Linked DNA regions of Homo sapiens. The protein of the gene in region 1 interacts with the protein of each later gene in a pairwise test. Each region holds a gene or a part of one and is shown in the gene's direction. Other genes may lie near its edges.

Evidence for each region.
Region 2: the proteins of RTP5 (region 1) and KRT86 interact in binary tests that used the Homo sapiens proteins (3 or more experiments, as listed by UniProt).
Region 3: the proteins of RTP5 (region 1) and TSGA10 interact in binary tests that used the Homo sapiens proteins (3 or more experiments, as listed by UniProt).

The regions. Positions count from the first base shown.
Region 1 is NC_000002.12:241,864,817-241,872,729, forward strand, and holds the start of RTP5 (receptor-transporting protein 5), read left to right. Parts: upstream 1-4,912; 5' UTR 4,913-4,940; coding exon 4,941-5,098; intron 5,099-6,897; coding exon 6,898-7,913.
Region 2 is NC_000012.12:52,277,645-52,284,667, forward strand, and holds part of KRT86 (keratin, type II cuticular Hb6), read left to right. Parts: intron 1-1,296; exon of another isoform or gene 1,297-1,512; intron 1,513-7,023.
Region 3 is NC_000002.12:99,067,920-99,074,942, reverse strand, and holds part of TSGA10 (testis-specific gene 10 protein), read left to right. Parts: intron 1-1,869; coding exon 1,870-1,925; intron 1,926-3,068; coding exon 3,069-3,237; intron 3,238-5,944; coding exon 5,945-6,055; intron 6,056-7,023. UniProt on the Homo sapiens protein: Plays a role in spermatogenesis. When overexpressed, prevents nuclear localization of HIF1A.

The DNA.
Region 1 (7,913 bases):
TTGTGTGGTGTGTGTAGTGTGTACGTGGTGTGTGGTGGGTGTAGTGTGTGTGTGGTGTGTGTAGTATGTGTTGTGTGTGTTGTGTGGTGTAGTGTGTGGTGTGTGTGGTGTGTTGTGTGTGTGGTGGGTGTAGTGTGTGTGGTGTGTAGTGTAGTGTGTGTGGTGTGTGTGTGGCATGTGTGGTGTTTGGTGTGTGTGGTGTGTGTAGTGTTTTTATGTAGTGTGTGGTGTGTGTCGTGTGTGTGGTGTGTGTCGTGTGTGTAGTGTGTGTGTGGTGTTTGGTTGTGTAGTGTGTGTGGTGTGTGTACTGTGTGTGGCGTGTTTGGCGTGTGTGTTTGTGTGTGGTATGTGTAGTGTGTGTGGTGTGTGCGGTAATGTGTGGTGTTTCTGTGGTGTGTGTAGTGTGTGTTTGTGGTATGTGTAGTGTGTGGTGTGTGGTGTAGTGTGTGGTGTGTGTGGTGTTTGGTTGTGTGGTGTGTGTAGTGTGCGTTTGTGTGTGGTGTGTGTAGTGTGTGTGGTGTGTGTACTGTGTGTGGTGTGTGTAATGTGTTGTGTGTGTGTAGTGTGTGTGATGTGTGGGTGTGTGTGTAGTGTGTGTGGTGTATGTGGTATGGTGTGTGTGCTGTGTGTGGTGTGTGTAGAGTGTGTTGTGTGTGTAGTGTGTGTTGTGTATGGTTTGTGTGATGTGTGTGTAGGGTGGTGTGTGTTGTAAGTGTGGTGTGTGTAGTGTGTGTGTGTGGTGTGTGTAATGTGCGTTTATGTGTGGTGTGTGTAGTGTGTGGTGTGTGTAGTGTGTGATGTGTGTAGTGTATGTAGTGTGTGGTGTGTGTAGTGTGTGGTGTGTAGTGTGTGGTGTGTGTGGCATATGTGTCTTGTGGTGTTTGGTTGTGTGGTGTGTGTGGTGTCTGGTGTAGTGTGTGGTTTGTGTGGCATGTGTGGCATGTGTGGTGTTTGGTTGTGTGGTGTGTGTAGTGTGTGGTGTGTGTGGGTGCGTGTGGTGTGTGTAGTGTGTGTGGTGTATGTGGTATGGTGTGTGTGCTGTGTGTGGTGTGTGTAGAGTGTGTGTGTGTAGTGCGTGTTGTGTATGGTTTGTGTGATGTGTGTGTTTGGTGTGTGTGGTGTGGTGTGTGTAGTGTGTCTGGTGTGTGTAGTGTATGGTGTGTGTAGTGTGTGTGGTATGTGTAGTGTGTGTAGTGTGTGGTGTGTGTGGCTTGTAGTGTGTGGTGTGTGTGGCGTGTGTGGCATGTGTGGTGTTTGTGTGGTGTGTGTGGTGTGTGTAGTGTGTGTGTGGTATGTGTAGTGTGTGTGGTGTGTGTGGTGTGTGGTGTGTGGTGTCCTGTGTGTGTGTGGCGCCCCTGCCTTCTCACTCCAGGGCAGTGGGTGTCACTCAGGCCCCTTGCTGGTCCCCCTGCTGGTCCCCCTGCTGGGCTCCAAAGCCGAAGAACCCGGGCTGAGCTGCGCGGGATGCTGAGCTGCGCGGGATGCTGAGCTGCGGGGGGATGCTGAGCTGCGGGGGATGCTGAGCTGCGGGGGATGCTGAGCTGCGGGGGATGCTGAGCTGCGGGGGATGCTGAGCTGCGGGGGATGCTGAGCTGCGGGGGATGAGCAGCGTGAGTGAGCGGTCCCCCAGGGAGGGATGCTCCGAGGGCGAGTGCAGGAGGTCCCTTGCATTCCTCCTTCGGAATGGCCTCCCCAGCCCCAGCAGGACTGCGGGTTGGAGGGGAGAGCAAGGGGCCTCTTGGACAGTGGAAGCGCTTTCAGCAACAGAATGGCTGGACAGAGGCTGCGTCCCCCCACCAGCTGCCGGTCCTGGGATCCCTGCCCGCCTGGGCAGCGCTGGGGCAGAGCCACACGGAGCCTTGGGCCAGGAACAACCCCTTGCCGGTGGGGCCTGTGGGACTGCAGGGCCTGGGGTCTGGGAGGCGGCCTTGTCCCTGCCGCTGCAGCCACGAGCTGAGGTCTGTGTTGGGAGGGTGAGCCCCAGCTGAGGTCTGTGGGGGGAGGGTGAGCCCCAGCACCTGCGAACGGCCACCGTTCTCTGCTCGGCTCCTTTTCCTGCCCGTCTCTTTCTCCCTCTGAGCAAGGACCACCATCCCGTCAGCCGACCGGTCCTCTGGCCCCACCGGGCCTTGGCGTTTGCTCCTCCCTCGCCGGGAGCTGCTGCCTCTGCTCCTCCAGGCCCAGGCAGTGCATCCGTTCTGGCAGGAGACTGTGGTGGGACTCACCTGAGCTGCAAGTTCTGCTTCCCAAGGGAGGGCTGTCCCCGGCCTGCCAGCTGCCCTCCCCAGAAGCTGAGCTCAGGAAGACGGGTACCAGCGTGTGAGGAAGGGGCCCCAGAAGGAGCGCGTGTCTGCGGGGAGAGGGAGCGCTAAGCCACCACACCAGGTGGGCAGCAGTGCTGAAGGGGCACCCGGCTTCCCCTGATCGTTTCTTTTCCCTGTGGCCCAATCTCCCACCCCCATCTCACCCTGTCCTGGAGCCAGCCTTCGGGGAGGCTGGGCAGGGAGCGGGGTCAGAAGGCGTCTGCCCCAGGCCTGGGTCCTAGGGCCTGTCCTTGGAGGGACCACACATGCCTGGAGAGAGGCTCCAGTGGCCGGCTCCAGGTGGGCGCTGATGCAGAAGGCCCAAGGAGGACCCTGCCACATGTTGCAGGGACCCGTGGGTGCTGTGCACAACCTGCCTCATCCATCCCCGCCGAAGAAGAGGGGGTGCTCATGGCTGGCTGATTTGTGAGGGGGCCACGTAAGCAGCTCTTGCAGGGCGTGGCTTGTGGGTTTGGGAGACAGACAAATGGGCAGTCAGACAGAGGCGTGGACAGGATGCCCTCTCTGCTGTCTGCCGCCCAGGCCTCTGGAGGTGTTCTGGGATGGGTCTAAGGAAAACTCAACAATTCTTGAGCGAATAATGCCCGGGCAACCAGCTCCCTGCATTTCATAAGGGCCGGAATTGCCATCCAAAAGGTTATTTTGGGTGACTGTGGTCAGTCATCATTCCAAAGCTTTTCCCTAAACTCAGAGCCAGGTGTGGCCTCCAGGGCTGAGGAGCCTGAGAGGTGGGACTGGCAGGCAGGGCTGTGGCCCCAGCGTGGCACGGAAGCAGCCAGGAAACACTGGCTCTGGGGGGCTGTGGTGGGAGGAGGTCCTCTGCAGGGACCCCTGTGGACCGAGGCTTTTGGAGGCAAGTGGACAGTAGGTGTCTCTTAGACCCCTGCGGGGGCACACGACCAGGACCACAAGGGGCCCACACACGCACAGTGGCCCGGAGCCAACCAGCAAACCCCAGGACCTTAGATACAGCCCGGCGAGTGAGTTAGGATTGCTCCGGCTAGCTGTGTGATCATCCACAGTGCCAGAGAACAGTGCCTCGAGACCACAGTGGCAGCTGGCTTACTTCTCGTGTGAACAGGAAACCCAGAGGTGGGCGACCCTCCAGTGGTGTGACGACTCCATCTGTCACCACAGCCCCGGGCTCCCGCCTTCCTGCTCCTTGGGCTCACAGCTCTGTGCTTGAGGCAGGTCTAAGACAGGCTGGAGTGCGGCCATCATCCCAGCACTGATGGATAGAAGAAAATGAAGCTGGGATGAGAAACGCGGGGCTTTCCCTGGCAGTCTGGCCCTGTATGGAGGCCCCTTCCCAGAGTGCGTCCCACTGGCTTCCTCTTCTATCTTGCAGTCACACCTAGCTGCAAGGCGGGAAGATGTCACAGGTTTGAAAGGGCCGAAAAGAAGGTTCAGAAATGAAAACTATGACAAGGCGCTTGCCAGCATTAGCTGCAGAGTCGACAGAGACGAGGAGATAATGTGTGAAGTGGTAGAAAAATGAGAAGAGATTGTTCAGTGTGCAGGGCAGAGAGATGGCGAGATGGGAGCTGTGAGGAGAGCCGGGTGGCCGGGAGCCTCCCGGGGGCAGATCTGTGCTGAGGTTTTGCAGGGATCAGCTGGCTGTCTCCGCCCCTGCACGTCCCGGCTCCTTCTCAGCTCACCCTTTCTTGTTGTGCCATGACAGGTGGCTGCCACGCACAGCAATGCTGTTGAATCTCAGAAATTAAACAACCTGAAAAGGCGTGAGAAGCTGGGCACATGCATGAATTGTTTATGTAAAGCTCAGAAGCTGCACAGCTAAAGGGCTCGGTGAGGGAGGCATCATAGGTGTTGAAGCCTCAACGTTGTCTGTGCAGGCACGGCCAGGCTGGTGGCACCTCTGCCAGGAGGGCAGGGGGTGGGGGTGGGGCCGCGGGCTGAGATCGGGAGGGAACAGGCAGCCAGCTCTGGAGGCTGGCAGAGCGAGGTTTTGTTTCTTCCTATAGGACGTGGTGACTTAAGACTTTAGAATAATTTGTGAAGCTCTGCATTTATGTTTTAGGCATTTTATGTAAATATTTTATATTTCTCACTAGTAAAAAGTTTAAGAGAATACACCCACGGGACAATCTGCAATGATACACGTTCTATAAAGTTCTTCTCAGCTTTGTTTGTGTGAAAAGCATTAGTGCTGTTTGCAGAGAGAAGCTGAGTGAATAAGTTACATGATAGCCACAAGCTGGAAAAATACCAAGTGTTCAGCAAGGGATGAGTGTGGGCCACCGCTCCTGATGTGCACTAGAAAGAGAGGGCTGTGGATGATTCCTTGGTGCGATGTGTGAAAACACCCGGGCCTCTACACGCACGGGTCTGGGGAGGCCCCTGCGTGTCCACGGGCCCACGCCCACCACCACCACCACGGTGCTGCCACAGGGATGCTCTCTGGGGGGCGGGGTCATGGGAGATTGCATTGTATTGTATTTTTCCTTTCTGCTTCCCATTTCTCGGAGACAAATCTGGTTGCCATGGAGACCATGCTGTTGTCAAGGTGGCTGATTGGCCGGCGCGGGATGCGGGGACGTTTCCTTGGGCCCCCGGCGGGCGCAGCCCTCAGCCCACACTGCGGAGCCAGGCGGCAGCATGGACCGGGCTGGGGCAGACATGTGGGCCAGCACCTTCACCCTGGCCATGGCCGAGAGGAAGCCCCAGGACGTCTGGGTTCTGCTACCTGAGCACAGCCTGGTCCCGGGATGCCTGGACGGCGGTGGTGTCCAGTACCTGCTGGTGGGGCTCTCGAGGTGCGGCCAGAGGTTGGGGACCCTGGGAGAGGCAGGGGGCTGAAGGTGCTTTTCCACGGGACCTTGGGTGGTCCCAGAGGCTGGGTGGGGCTGTTGGGCCTCGTCTTGTCCCCGAGACGGGAGGGTGGGGCTGGGTGCTCCTTCTCCCGCCGGAGCCCCTGCCTCGCCATGCTGGGCACACGGCTGCTGACGCAGGGGTCCCGGGGAAGACATGGCGGGTGCCTCATGGAGAGTTTGGTTTCCCTCACTCGGCTCCTTGGGCCAGCGCTGCCCTTGGACACAGGCTCATCTCCTGCTTCCATGGCACTGCCGTGGTCTCGCAGCCATCAGTGCTGACAGGTGGGCCCTGGGGCGTGCCGGAGCCTGTGGTCACCATCCGGCCCTGTGTTGCACACAGCGGGGTGCTCGGCCCTGATCGGGGGCCCGGGGTGGCTGTGGGTCACAAGTGAGCCTCACAGGCCGTCATCACGGTTGTGGTGCCGTCAGCGCAGCAGGGCGGGCGCCATGCGCTTCTCCAACTGGCAAGGCATCCACAGCTCGGCCGGGTGCCAGCTGGGAGGGGCGCGGGGCAGCTCCACATCCTCGCAGATGCCCGGCCTGACAGGCCCCCAGGCTGCTGGCTGGTCCGTCCCTCTGTGGAGACACCCTGGGCAAAGGGGGAGTCGTCCTGCCCTTTGACACAGCTCCTCAGTGCCTGAGACCCCTGGGGCCAGGTGTGTGCAGAATCCCAGCTTTTTCAGAAGCTGGGAAAGTAATAACCCGTGTTGGGGTCTGAGAAGTGCTGGGAAGCACATCACTGTTCCCACAGCCAGGTGGAGATGGCTCTGAGCGGCTCCCAGCTGGCGGGAGAGAACTGAGGACGGCTGCCCCAACATGCAGCCCCAGCGCCCGTGGCTTTGGCTCCTCAGTCCCATTTAAATAAAGTCAGCAGTTCAGTTCCTCCAGCACGAACGTGTCCACGGGCTCTGTGGCCAGTGTGGTTGGAGGCTGCAGGCAGGGCAGTGTGGCTATAGAACATTCTGTCATCCAGAAACTTCCACTGCCTGGAACTGAATCATAGCCTCTCACTCATGCAGGGTTCCCTGAAGCTCACAGCTGCTTGTGTGGCTAGCAAATGGTCACCGGTCTGATGACCGCCATGGACAAGCCAATCCCTCCCAGTGCTCTCCCCAAACCTCTCCTCGCCTGGTGACGCCCAGCAGGGCTGCCCGGGCCATGACCGCAGGCCTCCGTGACATCCTTCCCCTCAGCTGGCAGGCGACCTCCTGGATCGCCTCCTCTCAGTCAGGACAGGGACCCCCACTTGCTGAGCCCCCAGGGACAGCCCCCACATGCATGCTTTTCCCCTCCTAAGTGTGTCGGCAGGCCTGCCTCTTCCTGTGTTAACCCCAACTCACAAAACACCAGCAGAGCCACGCAGGTGGCAGGCTGCCGACGCCTCACGGAGGCCAGGCTGGAGCGGGTTTTGTTGAAAAACTGCTGAGAGGAGGTTTGCTTTGCTTCTCAGTGCTCCACATGAGGGGGCTGCGGGCTAGTGCGCATGGGCCTGCTTTTGCCTGTGTGTGGCCGAGGGGCTGGTGGTTTCAGAGCCTCGGCACAGGCAGGAGCAGGTGCTAGGCTGCCTTGGCCGCGGCCCTGGGTGGCTGGGGGGTGAGGTTTGAGGTTTGAGTGTGGGATGTGAGGCAGGGGGCAGCGAGGCGCTGGGGTCGGATGGGCAAGGAGGCCGCAGAGCAGAGTGCGAGGGCTGGGCGTGGGGCCTCTTTCTCCTGCACTCACACACACTTCTTTCCCCGCCGCAGGCTCCAGTGCGGTCACTGTCCGGGGACCTGGGACTCGGCCCATGTGCACGTCCTCTTCCACCTGTGGTGGGACAGGGCCAGCCACCGGGGGCTGGTGAAGATGCGCATCTGGGGCCAGCGGTGCAGGCTGTGCCCCGCACCCGGGGACTGCCAGGTGAGGCCCCCGGGCGAGCAGCCCTTCCTCAGCAGGCTGGTCTTGCACATCCTGCAGGACTGCTACGGGGATGGCCCCGGCCCAGCCCGGCACCCCAGGGAGGCCTATGAGGGCTGCTGTGAGGCCTGTGAGCTGGGGGTCTGCTTCCTCCAGAAGGCCCCAGACCCCGCCTGGAGCGCCAACGCCACAAAAGGCAACTTCCCCGCCACGGCCTGGGGTGGCACTGGCACCGTCTCCAGGGGCAAACCGCTGTCCACCCCTGGCGACGACCTTGGCAAGGGTGGCGTTGTCATCGCCATCCCCTTCTCCCTTGTGGGTACCAGCAATGACCAGGTGCCCATCGCTGAGGGCCCTGCCCCCCCTGCGGGGGCCTCTCTCCCTGTGACTGGCAGCTGTGAGGCCCTGGTCATCGGCCAGGGCTCCATCTTCCTGTCTGGGGATTCAGTGGCCATGCCTGGGGGCAAAGGCTTCCCGGTGGCCATTGGAGACCCCCTCTTCCACGGCCCCGGCCTCCTCGGCAGCAGCATCCAGACCTTCGAGCTCAAGGGCTTCCTCTTCAAAGGCCGGGGCTCCCTCTGCAGCCCGGTTGGCGTGGCCCAGGGCTGGGGCCCCATCTCCCTCAACAATGGCCTCGTCCCTGTGGGGAAACACACGCCAACCGTGTTCTACTGTGTGGGCCTCTCGGCCAGCGGGGAGGGCTCCCTCACCTTCCCCTCCTCCCTCACCAGCATCTTCACCAACACCCTCTCGGAGCCCACCGATGGCCCTGTGGCCACTAAAGAGGCCTCCATCACCTTCCCCTTCATCTTTACTGATGTCAAGGATGCCGTTGCTGAGGTGGCTGAAGGCAACGGGAAGGAAG
Region 2 (7,023 bases), on another chromosome or scaffold:
GAGTACTGAGAGCTGTGATCGTCAAGTGGGGCCTGGACTTTGAGATTGCTGCCTGCCACAAGCTGCTGGAGGGTGAAGAGAGTGGATGATGGGTCAGCTGGGAAGTGCTTCAGATGTGGCTGCAGTGAGGAGTGCAGGGGCACAGGGCAGCACCACGCTCATCAGCCAGGGAAGGGTGGAGAGAGATGACCTAGGTATCCAGGAACTCGTTCCTCTAGAGCTAGGTTTCTCTCACCATCTTACAGCCCTTTGAACAAAAAGTTCTAGCTGATGTGTACTTTTGGCACCTGGGACGGGGTGACCCATAGTCATCCACCCCAGTATCAGAGACCAGGGGCCGGTTTGTCCATGGAGACAGCTGCAGGGACCAAGGCCTAGCCAGTGGGAATAAGGTCTCTGTGTGAAGTGCCTTCTTCTCAACTCTGCCCCTCTCCCCAGGCCTGGGGAAGGTGGGGTTACATGACCAGGTGGGGCTTGGCTTTCAACTCAGTAGACAACAGTAGGAGACAAGGGCTGTCACCAGGCTAGGGGAGGGAGGGGGAACTGATCACCCATGCCACAGGCATATTGCATTGATCACCTCCTTTAACACCTCACAAAACCCTGGCAGGGAGGTCCTATTATCCCCATTTTACAGATGAGGGGTAAGTTTCAGAGAGGTTAAGTGACAGCTTTAGGGACACACACTAGTCTTCAGATTATGGAGCTACCTGCTCTGGGGTCTCCTGTAGAGGTTTAAAATGTTCCCTCACGGTCTCACCTTCCAAGATCAAGTCAGGCCAAAGAAAGTGTAGTTTTTTTTTTTTTTTTTTTGGTCTTCTCTTTCCTCCAAAAAGTCATCAACAAAAGTGAGTTATATGAATTTAAGGCAGGAGTGATCAGAGAGCGCCAGGGAGCTTGCAGGGTGGAAGGACTGCTGTCTGGGAGGGTCAGGAGTGTGTGTCCTGGGGAATGCAGAATACCAAACCTAGTAGACAGATGGACTCACCTGCTTCCTTCTTTCCGCTGGCTTGGTCTGGGATTTGGGGCAAGGAGCATCAGTAAGTAAACAGTAGGCTGGCATGGTCGGATCTTATCTTATTATCTTATTCTCCTTATTCCCTCCTTCCCCGTCCACACCTTGGCGTGCCTCCTCTTGAGAAGGCAGAAGGGCTGTGTTTCTGTTCCTGTGTCTGTGACAGCTCCCTCTGTGCCTCTCCTTTTGTCGGGGGCTATTTCTTCTCTCGGGGGTGACTGCGTTTGCGTGTGTGGGGAAGGGGGTCCTGTGGTCTGTTCTCTGGGGAGAGGTCTGTTTACCTGTTCCTTTCGGGGAGTTTGTACATCTGTCTCCTGGTGGGGAGGAGGGTCTGTGTATCTGGAGGAGATGTCTGCAAGTCTGTCTTCTGGGGCTTGGGGTGGGGGGAGGAAGGGCTTTCCTCCCTCGGACAGTCGTCCTCCGTTCAGCCGGGCTCCGCCTGCCTGCTCCAGCCCCGAGCAGGCTCCGGCGCCCTGGAGACGAGCGCCCCTGGCGGCGGCTACGCGCTCTGCGGCTCTCCCGGCTGTGTCCGTGGGCTTTAGCTACACAGCTCCCGCAGATGTTGAACCCTTCCCGCCTCCCTCCGGAGAAGACAAGGAACCCTCAGCTTCTGCCCTAAAGACTTAGCCCTCTTGTGTCAGATGCCCCCTCCCATAGAGCTGACCCCACATCATCTTTCCTTTTTGCCTCCCACACCGGGACGTGAGGCGTTGGAGCACAGCTTACAGGACTATGACTGACCATCCCCAGTGCAGATGGCCTGGACGCTGGTGCCATTGGGTAGAGGTGGCCAGCTTACCTGGACCAAGAACCCTGCCCCTCTGAACTGTTCCCACCCCTTCTTTCCAGGGACTTCTCTGCAATAAAAAGTTGTGGAGTGGTCTGAGCTGCCAGGAGTTTAAACCCGGATTCTCCAGGCCATTCCCAGAGCACAGACAAACCTGGCTGCGGTGGAGGGGTCAGGGCGAGAACAGTACCAGGAAGCAACCTCCTCCCCTCCTGCTGTGAGGGTCTATGTGACTTAAGTATATGATGATTCGATATTATAGAACCAGAGTCTTTAGGATGGGGAGCCCGGAGTCCATGGGGAAAGCGAGAGAAAGGGTTCATTCATGCAGAAGAGTCTAGCCTGGGGCCCATAGCTTCTGGGCAGCAGAGCTGAGAATTCCATTCTCCATCCATCCATTCACTCTACACATACTTACTGAATGGCCTCATAGTGCTTGGTTCAGGGGACAGGATGGTGAGGAAGACACTCTAGGATTCCTGGAGATGAGGTTCTGGGTAGGGAGGTGGGCCATAGACGAGGAAACCGAGCAGAAACAGAAAAGGGTGAGATGGGGATTGGGCCAGTGCCTTCTATCACCCTGATGGGGCATTTGAAGACAGGTGGCCCTTGCAGATGGGGGCTGGAGAGAGATGAACACAATTGGGTGGCCCAAGCTTGGGTTCTGGTTTAACACACAATTGGGCCACCGAGTTGTGTTAATATGATCTGGTGGCGGGCAGAGGAACAACACACTATGGTGGAGGAAATTGTGGGCTGTGAAATCAGACGGAGGCTCCAGCTCTGTCTCTACTTCAGATCCAGGGTGTAAGTTGGTCCGAGTTTTTACAAGGCATTGGATTTTGGTGGTCGGAAGATAGAGTGGGGTGGCTAGATAAAGGCTGGATTTCTGGGTTCTTTCCCTGCCACACAGACCCAAGAGAAGCTTCTGTACAGTGAGCCCACATTCCTTTCTATTGCATGAAATTACATCATCAATGCAACAATAGTTTCTGCTTTCTATGTCCCTGGGTGGGGCTGAAGTGCGTCATTGGCCAGAGGCTTGGGCTTTACTTTTTAAGGCACTCTAGTGCCAGAGTGTCTGCTGTGTTCTTCTGGGTGCCTGCCCAGAGGACAGGTATCCAAAAGGCCCTCTTCTTGTGTAAACAGAAAAGTCTCATGCAAGAGGAATGGGACTGAAACTTGGCTAGCCGGATGCCACCCTCCTGAGGGGTAGGGGGCATGACCCCACTGGGCTCACACATCAGCCCTGGTTGATAAATACTGACCTGCCAACACTCGCAAATGCAAACAAGCTGCCTGAAGATTCTTTCAAGATTCTTTAGTCCAGCTCTGTGCTCCTTGCATTTTGCTAGGGGATCATGAGATTCTCTGCTATTCAAGCCCAATTTTCTCCAGCTCCTGCTATGATGATCATGTCAACAAGGGAACTTTGTGGGAATTGTAGGCAGGATCTAGGATGTACATTCTGCAACCTGCGTCACTCAGGACTGTTGCTCACATTTTCCCTTTTCAAATACCGAACCTGGACTTGCCTGATGTCAATCCAGAAGATCCCCAGGGCTTTGGGGTCAGGTTTGAGTTTCTTCCTGGGCCAGGGCCCTGTGGATCACAAGCAATGTTTGTGGTTTGGAGACTAATTCCCTGAGAGGCTCCCCTGGCCATGGGCCACATTCCAGACTGGGGTGGGAGGAAACTGCCCAGTGCATTTATGGAGAGTCATTCCCCAGCCCATTTATAAGCTTTGTGAGTCGGGTGGCTTCTGAAGGGAGGAGGGCTGTCCTCAGTTCAGTCATTGCTTCTCAGCAGAAGGGCACTATAAGGTGTGAGTCCTCTGTTGGCTCTGCATGCCTGCCTCACACTCCGTTGTATTTAAACATGTCAGATGCTAACTTGGCTGTGGTCATGTCTCTATCTGAGCCCCAGGAGGGCAGTGAAGGTCTCATCCATCCTCAGGGTCTGCCACAGAGTAGATGTGATGGGGTTGAGGCTGCATGGTCCTGGTTGGTGTGTCCTGTCCTGAGATGTATTGGGCCCTGTTTTTGACCATTGGCATGTGGCATTCTGCATAACCCCTTGGAAGTCTCTTGTGGAGTCTAAATGCAGTCCTTCCTGCTGTGATTTCAGCTGTAAGAGATCAACCAGACCAGCCTGGAGTAAGGAAGGAAGGGCCTTGATCCTGTTCCCAGTCTTATTCTTACCTTGTCCAAACTCTTCACCTGTTTCTGGGCCTCAGTCCTGCCCTCCTCTAGATCTAAATTGTGAAGATTCTTTTTTTCCTTCTTATTTAATTTTAAATTTATTTTTGTAGTGATGAAGTCTTGCTCTATCACCCAGGCTAGAGTGCAGTGGCAGGATTATAGCTCACTGCAGCCTCAACCTCCTGGGCTGAAGCGATCCTCCTGCCTCAACCTCCTCAGTAGCTGGGACTACAGGCACATGCCTCCACGCTCTGCTAATTAAAAAAAAAGTTTTGTAGAGATGGGGTCTCACCATACTGCCCAGGCTGGTCTCAAACTCTTGGCCTCAAGCAATCCTCCTGCCTCAGCCTCCCAAAGTGCTGGGATTACAGATGTGAGCCACTGTGCTTGGCTTTCTTTTTCCTTGTTTTCTTCCCTACTTAGTCCCTCTGAGCCAAAGGTTAGCTGCAAAATAGAGTAACTATCAGAGGGTTGTTTGAGAAAAGGTATTGCTGCATGTAAAGTGCTTAAAGCATAGGAAGTTATGTAAGTGTAACTATTATTTCACTTACTGGAATTCTTTAGAAGGTTTTTGAGCCCCCTGAAACAATTTTTTTTTTTTTTGAGACAAAGCCTTGCTCTGTCGCCCAGGCTGGACTGCAGTGGCGCAATCTTGGCTCACTGCAAGCTCCGCCTCCCGGGTTCACACCATTCTTCCGCCTCAGCCTCCCAGATAGCTGGGACTACAGGCGCCTGCCACCGTGATGGGCTAATTTTGTTTTTGTATTTTTAGTAGAGACGATGTTTCTCTGTGTTAGCCAGGATGGTCTCGATCTTCTGACCTCGTGATCCGCCCGCCTCAGCCTCCCAAAGTGCTGGGATTACAGGCGTGAGCCACCGCGCCCGGCCAAGTTTTGAGCCCCTTTAAAGAAAGCTCTCCAAAGTCCAAGGGTGGCTGAACTCCATCTGCCCCACCTGGAGTGAGAGTGACCATAGGGCAGGAGGAATAAGTAGGCAAGCCTAGGGGTTAGAGCAAGGGCTCCTTGGCCAGAGGGCACCTCCCTAGTATGACCCCCAGCAGCATCTGCCCATCACTACGCCCACTTTAGCCCCACTCCCCATCGGTGACCCCTACCTCACCAGCACACATGGGTCTACCCATGTACCCACACTGCACTCACATCCACATGTACCCACAAATCTCCCTTTTTCAGCACATAGATGCACACATGTCCACCATGTATAATCACACATTTAGAAACCCTCACCATCTCTCTCACACACACGTTTCCACACAGGTGCCTGGAATGTGCATGTACCTGGATGCAATCATATTGCTCCACTCGCAGTTACCTCTAGGCATTGAGCAATGCAGAATGAATATACAAACAACATGCGCATACACTGCACAGTTGCATGAAACCTGGACTCCCCATTTCCCTCTAGCCCCTAATCCTGTCCCACCTCTCCCAAAGAATAACAGAGTTGACTGGGTGCGGTGGCTCATGCCTGTAATCCCAGCACTTTGGGAGGCTGAGGTGGGTGGATCACAAGGTCAGGAGTTTGAGACCAGCCTGGACAATAAGGTGAAACCCCGTCAGTACTAAAAATACAAAAATTAGCCCGGTGTGGTGCAGGCACCTGTAGTTCCAGCTACTTGGGAGGCTGAGGCAGGAGAATTGCTTGAACTAGTGAGGTGGAGGTTGCAGTGAGCTGAGCCTGCACCACCGCACTCCAGCCTGGGCAACAGGGTGAAACTGTCTCACAAAAAAAAAAAAAAAAAAAAAAAAGAATAATAGAGCTTTAAATTGGTAAGGGATGTTAGTAGCCACCTAATCCAAGCATTTTTTTTTTTTTTTTTTTTTTTTTGAGACAGAGTCTCGCTCTTGTTGCCCAGGCTGGAATGCAATGGCGCCATCTTGGCTCACTGCAACCTCCACCTCTCAGGCTCAAGCAATTCTCCTGTCTCAGCCTCCCAAGTAGCTGGAATTACAGGCACATACCACCACGCCTGGCTAATTTTTTGTATTTTCAGTAGAGATGGGGTTTCTTCCTATTGGTCACGCTGGTCTCAAACTCCTGACCTCAGGTGATCTGCCCACCTCGGCCTCCCAAAGTGCTGGGATTACAGGCGTGAGCCACCACGCCCAGCCCCAAACATTGTATTTCATTAGCAGATACACTAAGGCCCAGAGATGGGAGGTGACTTGCTAAAGGTCACACAGTGAGATGTTCCATTTTCTTCACCATTCTGCACCCGGGGCATTATGTGTTTGATTCCTTCCCGCCTTGCTCCTCTGTCTGAGCCTGTGCAGGAATGGGAACCTAGAGGGAGGTGAGGATTGTGGGGCCGGAGTAGGAAGGAAGAGAGGGTCAGAGCTAGAGGGAGAGTGAGGGAGTGAAATACGGCAGGTCACTAAGGCCCAGCTAGGCTGAAGTTGGAATAGGTGAGAAGTCCATCAGGACTGGAGTTGTAGTTGGCTTCTGAACTAGGGAGGGATGGAGCTGGTGCTTGAGTCTCAGGTCTGGACTCCTGACAGGGGCTGCTGCTGCTGCTGCTGCTTCTTGTTTTTTTATTTTTTTGAAACAGGGTCTTGCTGTGTCGCCCACGCTGGAGGCAGTGGCACAAACATGGCTCACTGTGCGGCTTCAACTTCCTGGGCTCAAGCTGTCCTGCTTCGGCCCCCTAAGTAGCTGGGACTATAGGTGCACACCACGTCGCCCAGCTAATATTTTTATATTTTATAGAGATAGAGTCTCACTGTATTGTCTGGGCTGATCTCTAACTCTGGGGCTCAAGCGATCTTTTCACCTTGGCCTCCTAAAGTGTTGAGATTATAGGTGTGAGCCACTGCACCTGGCCTAGGGCCAGCTTCTGAGCTGTGTGATGTCACAGCATACAGGGCTGGTTGGAATGATTGATCACAAATTCTGGAACTTTCTAGGATTGTGTCCCTCTCAGAATTCCATCAGGGGTGGCTGAGAGACCTTGGTTTGATTCTAGCTTTTACAGGAGAATTTGTTCTTTTCAGTCCACTCAC
Region 3 (7,023 bases), about 140 Mb from region 1:
TCTGTCACCCAGGTTGGAGTGCAGTGACACAATCTCAGCCCACTGCAACCCTCGCCACCCGAGTTCAAGTGATTCCCTGCCTCAGTCTCCTGAGTAGCTGGGATTATAGGCGCCCACCACTGCACCCGGCTAATTTTTGTATTTTCAGTAGAGATGGGGTTTCACCATGTTGGTCAGGCTGGTCTCAAACTCCTGACCTCGTGTTCCGCCTGCCTCACCCTCTCAAAGTGCTGGGATTACAGGCATAAGCCACCGCATTCGGCCTCAAGTAAAGACTTTCAAAAGCACTAGTTCAACTAGCTTTTCAGAATTTGTTTAGAAATGTATTAAATTATATTTCAAAAATGTGTAAACATTCCATTTTATGGAGTATTTTGTCTTTTAGTTTTTCCTTCGTTGGCTTGTCCTTCTTGAAGGGGTTTAACTTTTTTTTTAATGCATATTTTAACAACACACCAGTATCTATTACTGCCAGATGTGGAATCTGTACCATTCCATGAGAAAGCAGAATGGGAAACTGTAGCTAAAAATACCCTGGAGAAGAGCACATGAATAAAGGAAGATAGCACACACACACACACACACACACACGCAAATATGTGTAAAACTAACGCTAAAGAAATAGGAACGGCCGGGCGCAGTGGCTTACGCCTGTAATCCCAGCACTTTGGGAGGCCGAGGTGGGTGGATCACTTGAAGTCAGGAGTTTGAGACCAGCCTGGCCAACATAGTGAAACCCCGTCTCTACTAAGTATACAAAAAATTAGCTGGGCATGGTGGCGCATGCCTGTAGTCCCAGCTACTTGGGAGGCTGAGGCAGGAGAATCGCTTGAACCTGGGAGGCGGAGGTTGCAGTGAGCCGAGATCGCGCCCTCGCACTCCAGCCGGGGCATCAAGAGCAAAACTCCATCTCAAAAAAAAAAAAAAAAAAAAAAAAAAAAAGAAAAGAAACAGGAACAGAATTGGTTGGAAAATATAGGTTTGGGTTTTTAAAAATCTTTTTACTTAGTTACTTAAAATTTGAAAATTCAAATGGCAAGGTGAAATCTAGTTATTACTTAGTGAAATAACTTTCTTACTTTTTTAGGGCTAATGTTAGCTCTAAGTATCTGTTTATAGTTGGACTAGTTCAGGGTCAATGGAAGTTTTAAAAAGAGGTGTGGGAATGGTATTAAAGGCATTAAGATATTCAAACCCATTTCTGCCTTGACTGACTCCACTACTTCTACTCCCTCATCACGCCTTTGAAAAAGGAAAATATAGTTTATTTCTCTTACCTTTGCTCGAGGCCTAATGCTTACCTTCTTATTAGCTCTCACCTAAATATCAGTAGTATACTTCTATAAGTAATTGGATTGGAACAGCTTTTTGAAGATTTTGTTGCTGGCTAATATAAATAATACACTTAATCAAAATTATTCTTAAAAACTAAATTTAGGTATACATGATTGGCTTCTCTGGGTTTTATAACATAAAGAATGTGAGCAAGAGAACCAGTTCTAAATCCCAGTATAAAATGCCAATACTCCAATGCCAAACCATTGGTTTGCCTCCAAAAACAGGTGGTTATAGGGTTCTTGTATTGCTGGGTGACTGCATAAAATATCTTTTGACAAAGAATTTGATATACTGATCTCATAATTACACCTAAGTATAGCCTTTACTTTAATGAACATAATCTATTTTTACCCAGTGCAAATATTCACATTGATATACTAGGCTTTAAAGTGTGGAAAAGAATAGGACATACATGTTTTTAAAACCAAATGGAAACCTAAAGGGAAAGGGAAATTTTCTTTTTGTTCATTCAATTTTAACAGAAATAACAGCTTAAGATTTTTTTATTTAATACTTATATTATTTTTCAAGGAAAAGACCATTTCAGGCATGAAGAATATCATTGCTGAGATGGAACAGGCATCAAGGTAAATCAGTCGTGCAACAAATATATGAGCTCTTACTGGGGGGCCAAGTACCATGTTAGGTACAAAGATAGTAAGAAACAAGGGGCTTAATGATACGTGTAAGGTGCTAACTCTCTCATCAAAGGAGGCCTAAGTCTGTCTAAGGAACTAAAAGAGGGGATGGTGTTTGCCAAGTAAAATAAGGGGAAGGGAAGGGCATTTAAAGTAGAAAGAATAGCAAAGAACCACAGATCATGTTGACAAGCCTCTTGACCTACAAGTGGGTGAGTGTTGTTGAAACCTAGAGTGTAAGGGGAGAAGTGAAGGGAGGAGACTAAATAGGCAGGCAGAGGCTTGTGTAACAGACAAATGAGTATTGGTTATATCCTTTGGGCAATAAGAAATCATTAAAGAATTCTGAGGAGAATTTTGTGTTAGAAAGATACCTAAGCAGAAGAGGTGGTGATAAATTGGGGTTTAGGAGTTGTGGGACAGAAGGAGTGAAATGCTTTTGTATGAGGGAGAGACACCAGGAAAATGCCAAGTTTCTGGCCAGGGACAAATACTGAACATGAAGAAAGTATGAGGAGAAAAAATGATTTTACCTCTGAATTTGAAGAACCTTTGGGACCTTATTGTAGACATGTCTAGTAAGCAGTTAAATATAAGTCTGGAGTATAACAGAGGGTCTAAAACTGGAGATAATTATTTTGGAGTCATTGGATCTAGATGGGGTTGGGAACCATGGATATGAATAGAGTTTGTCTGAGAGAAGGGTTAGAGTGAGAATAATTGGGAGGCTAGGGCTTGAGCCCTGAAAAGCATTAATTTTTAAGTGGGCAGAGGAAGAGGAATCTGTAAAGGAGACTAAGCCATAACAGAAGTAGGATGAAAGCCTTCCTAATACTTGATGTAAGAAGTTTTGAAATATTTGGCAAATCATTGACTATTATGTATACTTTGTATCCTTTTCATAGCGAAATGATGGCAACATTGAGAAACTCTAATGCACTGTCTTTGCAGTATTTATTCCTATAAATTCAAACGTGTTTAAAATCTCTTCAAATGTTTTCATACTAACTGTCCATCTTCTGTCTTGTGAGAATTTGTTGCTCTGTTTCAGTAAAATGTCTCTTCTTATGTACTCTTTGATTTGTGGAATAGACAGTGTACTGAGGCCCTAATTGTGTGTGAACAAGACGTTTCCAGAATGCGTCGGCAATTGGATGAGACAAATGATGAGCTGGCCCAGATCGCCAGGGAAAGAGATATCTTGGCTCATGACAATGACAATCTCCAGGAACAGTTTGCTAAAGCTAAACAAGAAAACCAGGTACACTTGTTCCTAGAATCATTTTCTCCAAGAAAAAAAAATATGAATTTCTTGTGAGGAACAGCCCTCATTTTATTTTATAGAAGAGCTCAGACACTGGAACTAGCCTTTTCTTTTTTTTAAAAAATAACAAAATAGGCCACATAATTTTTAAATGGAATTCTCAGACACAAAGGGTTAAATATTAAAGAAAAGAGAGAACAGGGCTATATTTGTATTAAAGCTTAGTACTTCCTTGCTGAAGGATAAATATTTGAATAATCAAAAAATGAGAATAAAAACCTTGAGAAACCTTAAAGAAAAGAATAGGTGTTTTTTTTTTAAAAAAATGGACTACATATTATTCTGTTTTAAGTATGAATGTATGGACTGTGCCTTGTTTTTTGGTTCTCATTAGCACTGTGATTCTTTTTAGGAAAGTTCCTCTTATAATTACTCTTTCTCCCTAAGGCAATATATTTAAGTCTAATCTGCAGTTCTCATTTCCAATAACATTTATTTTAACGTGAACATTTAAAAATCCTATTTGGAAAATTTCTTCCCTTCTCAAAATTTTTAAGACCAAATGGTTTTCCCCACTTTGTATCACTTTCAGTGTGTTTAGTTTGCATCCTGAAAGTCTGTGTTCTTTAACTGTTGAAGATTATTAATTTACTTAAACAGCTATAAAGCTGTAATACTTTGTTAATCATAAAAAATTATCTGAGATGTTAAAGTATTTTGTTTAAAAGTAAATGAATAATGGGATCCTGGAATAGAAAAAGGACATTATGTAAAAAAGGAAAGAAATCTGAATAAAGTATGGACTTCAGATAATAATGTGTCAATATTGGCTTATTAATTGTGACATATGCACCATACTAATGTAAAATGTTAACAATAGAGGTGCCCTTTATAATGTCTTCACAACTTTTCTGTAAATCTAAAACTATTCTAAAAGTTTATTTAAAAAATTAATGAATAGCAATAAAAACCAAAACATGGGAATTTGTAAGGTTTGCCTTTGTGTACTCTTTACAGCTAGAGCATATGGGCTAAAGGTGGATATATCTTATTTATGAAAACCTAGAAATTTAGTTTCTATTTTTTTGATTGGTTTAGAAATAGAAGCTTATTATAGAAAGTCTTTTTTCTAAACAAAAAGTTAAGAGTTTAGAAAAGCCCCCATGTTTTTGATACTCAGTTACTGTTATATTTGACATATTTTTTTAATTGCTATACAGTGCACTTAAAAATTTTAACACTATTTTTATACACATTTTCTAATGTAGTGGGATAAAATCACCTATCACTTTAGATCATGCTTTTTTCTACATGAAGAGGCAGTAGAGTCGAGTAAGATTCACATGGGTTGAATCTTGCTCTCTGCGTGTGTGATCATATAAACCAACTTCTCTGAGTCTCTGTAGCATCTGTAAAAATGGTTAATAAGTGAGACTATACCTGGAAAGCACTTACTGTACTGTCCAGTATATCACTCAATAAATATTTTATAGCTATTATTAGCTTACTATAATATTGTAAGCATTTTCCTGCCTTGTTCAAACTTTGTAAACATTTTTTATAATCAGAAGAAAACTGTTGTCATAACAATTTACATATGCTCAAAAGTAGTTTTTTCTTCGTTATGGTCATAGGCCCAAGGTAGAAGAGAGGTCTCTCTCTGTGGACCACAGGTTAAGAACCAGTATTGCAGAAGACGAGAAAGTGGAAACTTAAAAAAAATTTATCCTTGATACCACAATTTTTAACAAATTGGGATAATGAGGTATTTTTGTGTTTTAGCACGATTTTTTTTTCACTTAACATAGGCAAATATTTCCCTGTATTATTAAAAATCATTCCAAACATTTCTCACAGGTATGTAATATTCCATTATGTGGTTATGCCACTATGTAGATATACTATTATTTACTGCATGATTCACTTAATGTGAATAAATATTGTCACTGTAACAAATGCCTTAATGACAGCATCTCATTAAATTTTATTAGATTTCATTTCAGAGTGAATCACAGATTATCAGGTTTCTTTTTAATTATTATTTATTTATTTATTTATTTATTTATTGTAGAGTTGGGTTCCCACTATGTTGTTCAGGCTGGTCTCAAACTCTTAGGCTCAAGTGATCCTCCCAAAGTGCCAGGATTACAGGAAAAACACCCAGCTGAGGTTTCTTTTTTAAATTAAAAAAATGTAAATAGACATTTTCAAATATAATGAATCCCCATGTGCCATTTCCCACCTTCAAAAATAATCAACATTTTTGTCTTTCTTGTTTTTATGAGCATTTAAAAATTGTCTCTTGATACATCACCAGATTCCTGATCACAGATTTGCTTTCTGCAAATCTACATTTACTCCAGTAGTACATGGAAATGCCCATTCTTTACCATAGCTGAATAGCTTTAAATCTTTATTAATTTGATAAGCAGAATAGTAATGTGTTGTTTTAATTAGCATATCTTCAGTTGCTAGTAGAGTTTTTTTCAGGTCTTACCTACTTATGCTTCCTTTTTTGAATTGCTTATTTGGGTCATTTGCCCACTTGCTATTGGGCTTATGTGTTTTCTTTTTTTATATGAGTTTATATATTAGGTATGTTAATTTTATTTGTTCCAAGTGTTTAAAAATTTGTTTATGGTATTTTTGAGATATAGAAATTTTTTATTTTTCATAGTCAAATATACCTATCTTTTTTTCGTAGGCACTGTCCAAAAAATTGAATGACACTCATAATGAACTTAATGACATAAAACAGAAGGTTCAAGATACTAATTTGGAGGTTAACAAGCTGAAGAATATATTAAAGTCTGAAGTATGTATTTTTTTTTTCTTTTTGCTCATGATACTTAGTTTTCACTAGAGTTAATTTAGAAGTTGGTATACTCAGAACGACAGGTGAATCAAAGCTTTCTTTAATACATAGTATATTTTAGTTTTGACAATGGTGGGTTAACTACATATTTAGAATGTTCAGAAAGATGCCTGGAGAATATGCCCCTTTTGTTTTGCAACTCTGCCACTCTAGACAAGCAGAATCTTCCTAACTGGATGATGGACAAAGGGCTAAAATCAATTTGACCTCGCTTATAATTAATTGAAAGTGGTGGGGTTTCCAGTTATAAACCTCTGACAAAAGAGGTTCCACCTGATTATGTAGCAGATCAGAATTGGTTACCCTGTTATGGGACCATCTATTTTTTTTAGGACCACAAGGCAGATGGTTCTCCTCACACTTCTCTGTTAGCAATCATTTGACCAGGCACATGTACATGACATCAGATGACTCCAATAAGTGTGGTGCATGTGTGGCAACTCAGGAATAAACAGGCAGCTTTACTGAGGATTTTAGATATGTCTATTAGGTAAAATATTATCTAAAATTGAGGGAGGATGTTCCCATTAATGGTTTGAGTGGTATGTAGGTAACACTATACCTATTATAATAATCAATCCACCTATACTATTTTATCATTTCATGTCAGTCCACAAACATATCTTGAACATTTATTTATGGTATGCATAGTACTGTTAAGGGCTTTGAGACAGAAGAGATTCTAAGGATTTCTAAATTGCAATCCTTGCTTTCAGGCAGCAAGCAGCCTGTGTAGGAAAAGCACGTGGTTTCCTACACTTCCTGATTTTAAGGTTCCAGCAATGTAATACCATAAATGAACAAAAGGCTTTTTATTTATGCAGGCTACTCAGCCTCTCTGATTCTTCCCATCTGTAATCGGGAAGAACACCCAAGTAAGTGAGATAATTTAAAACACCTAGCACAGT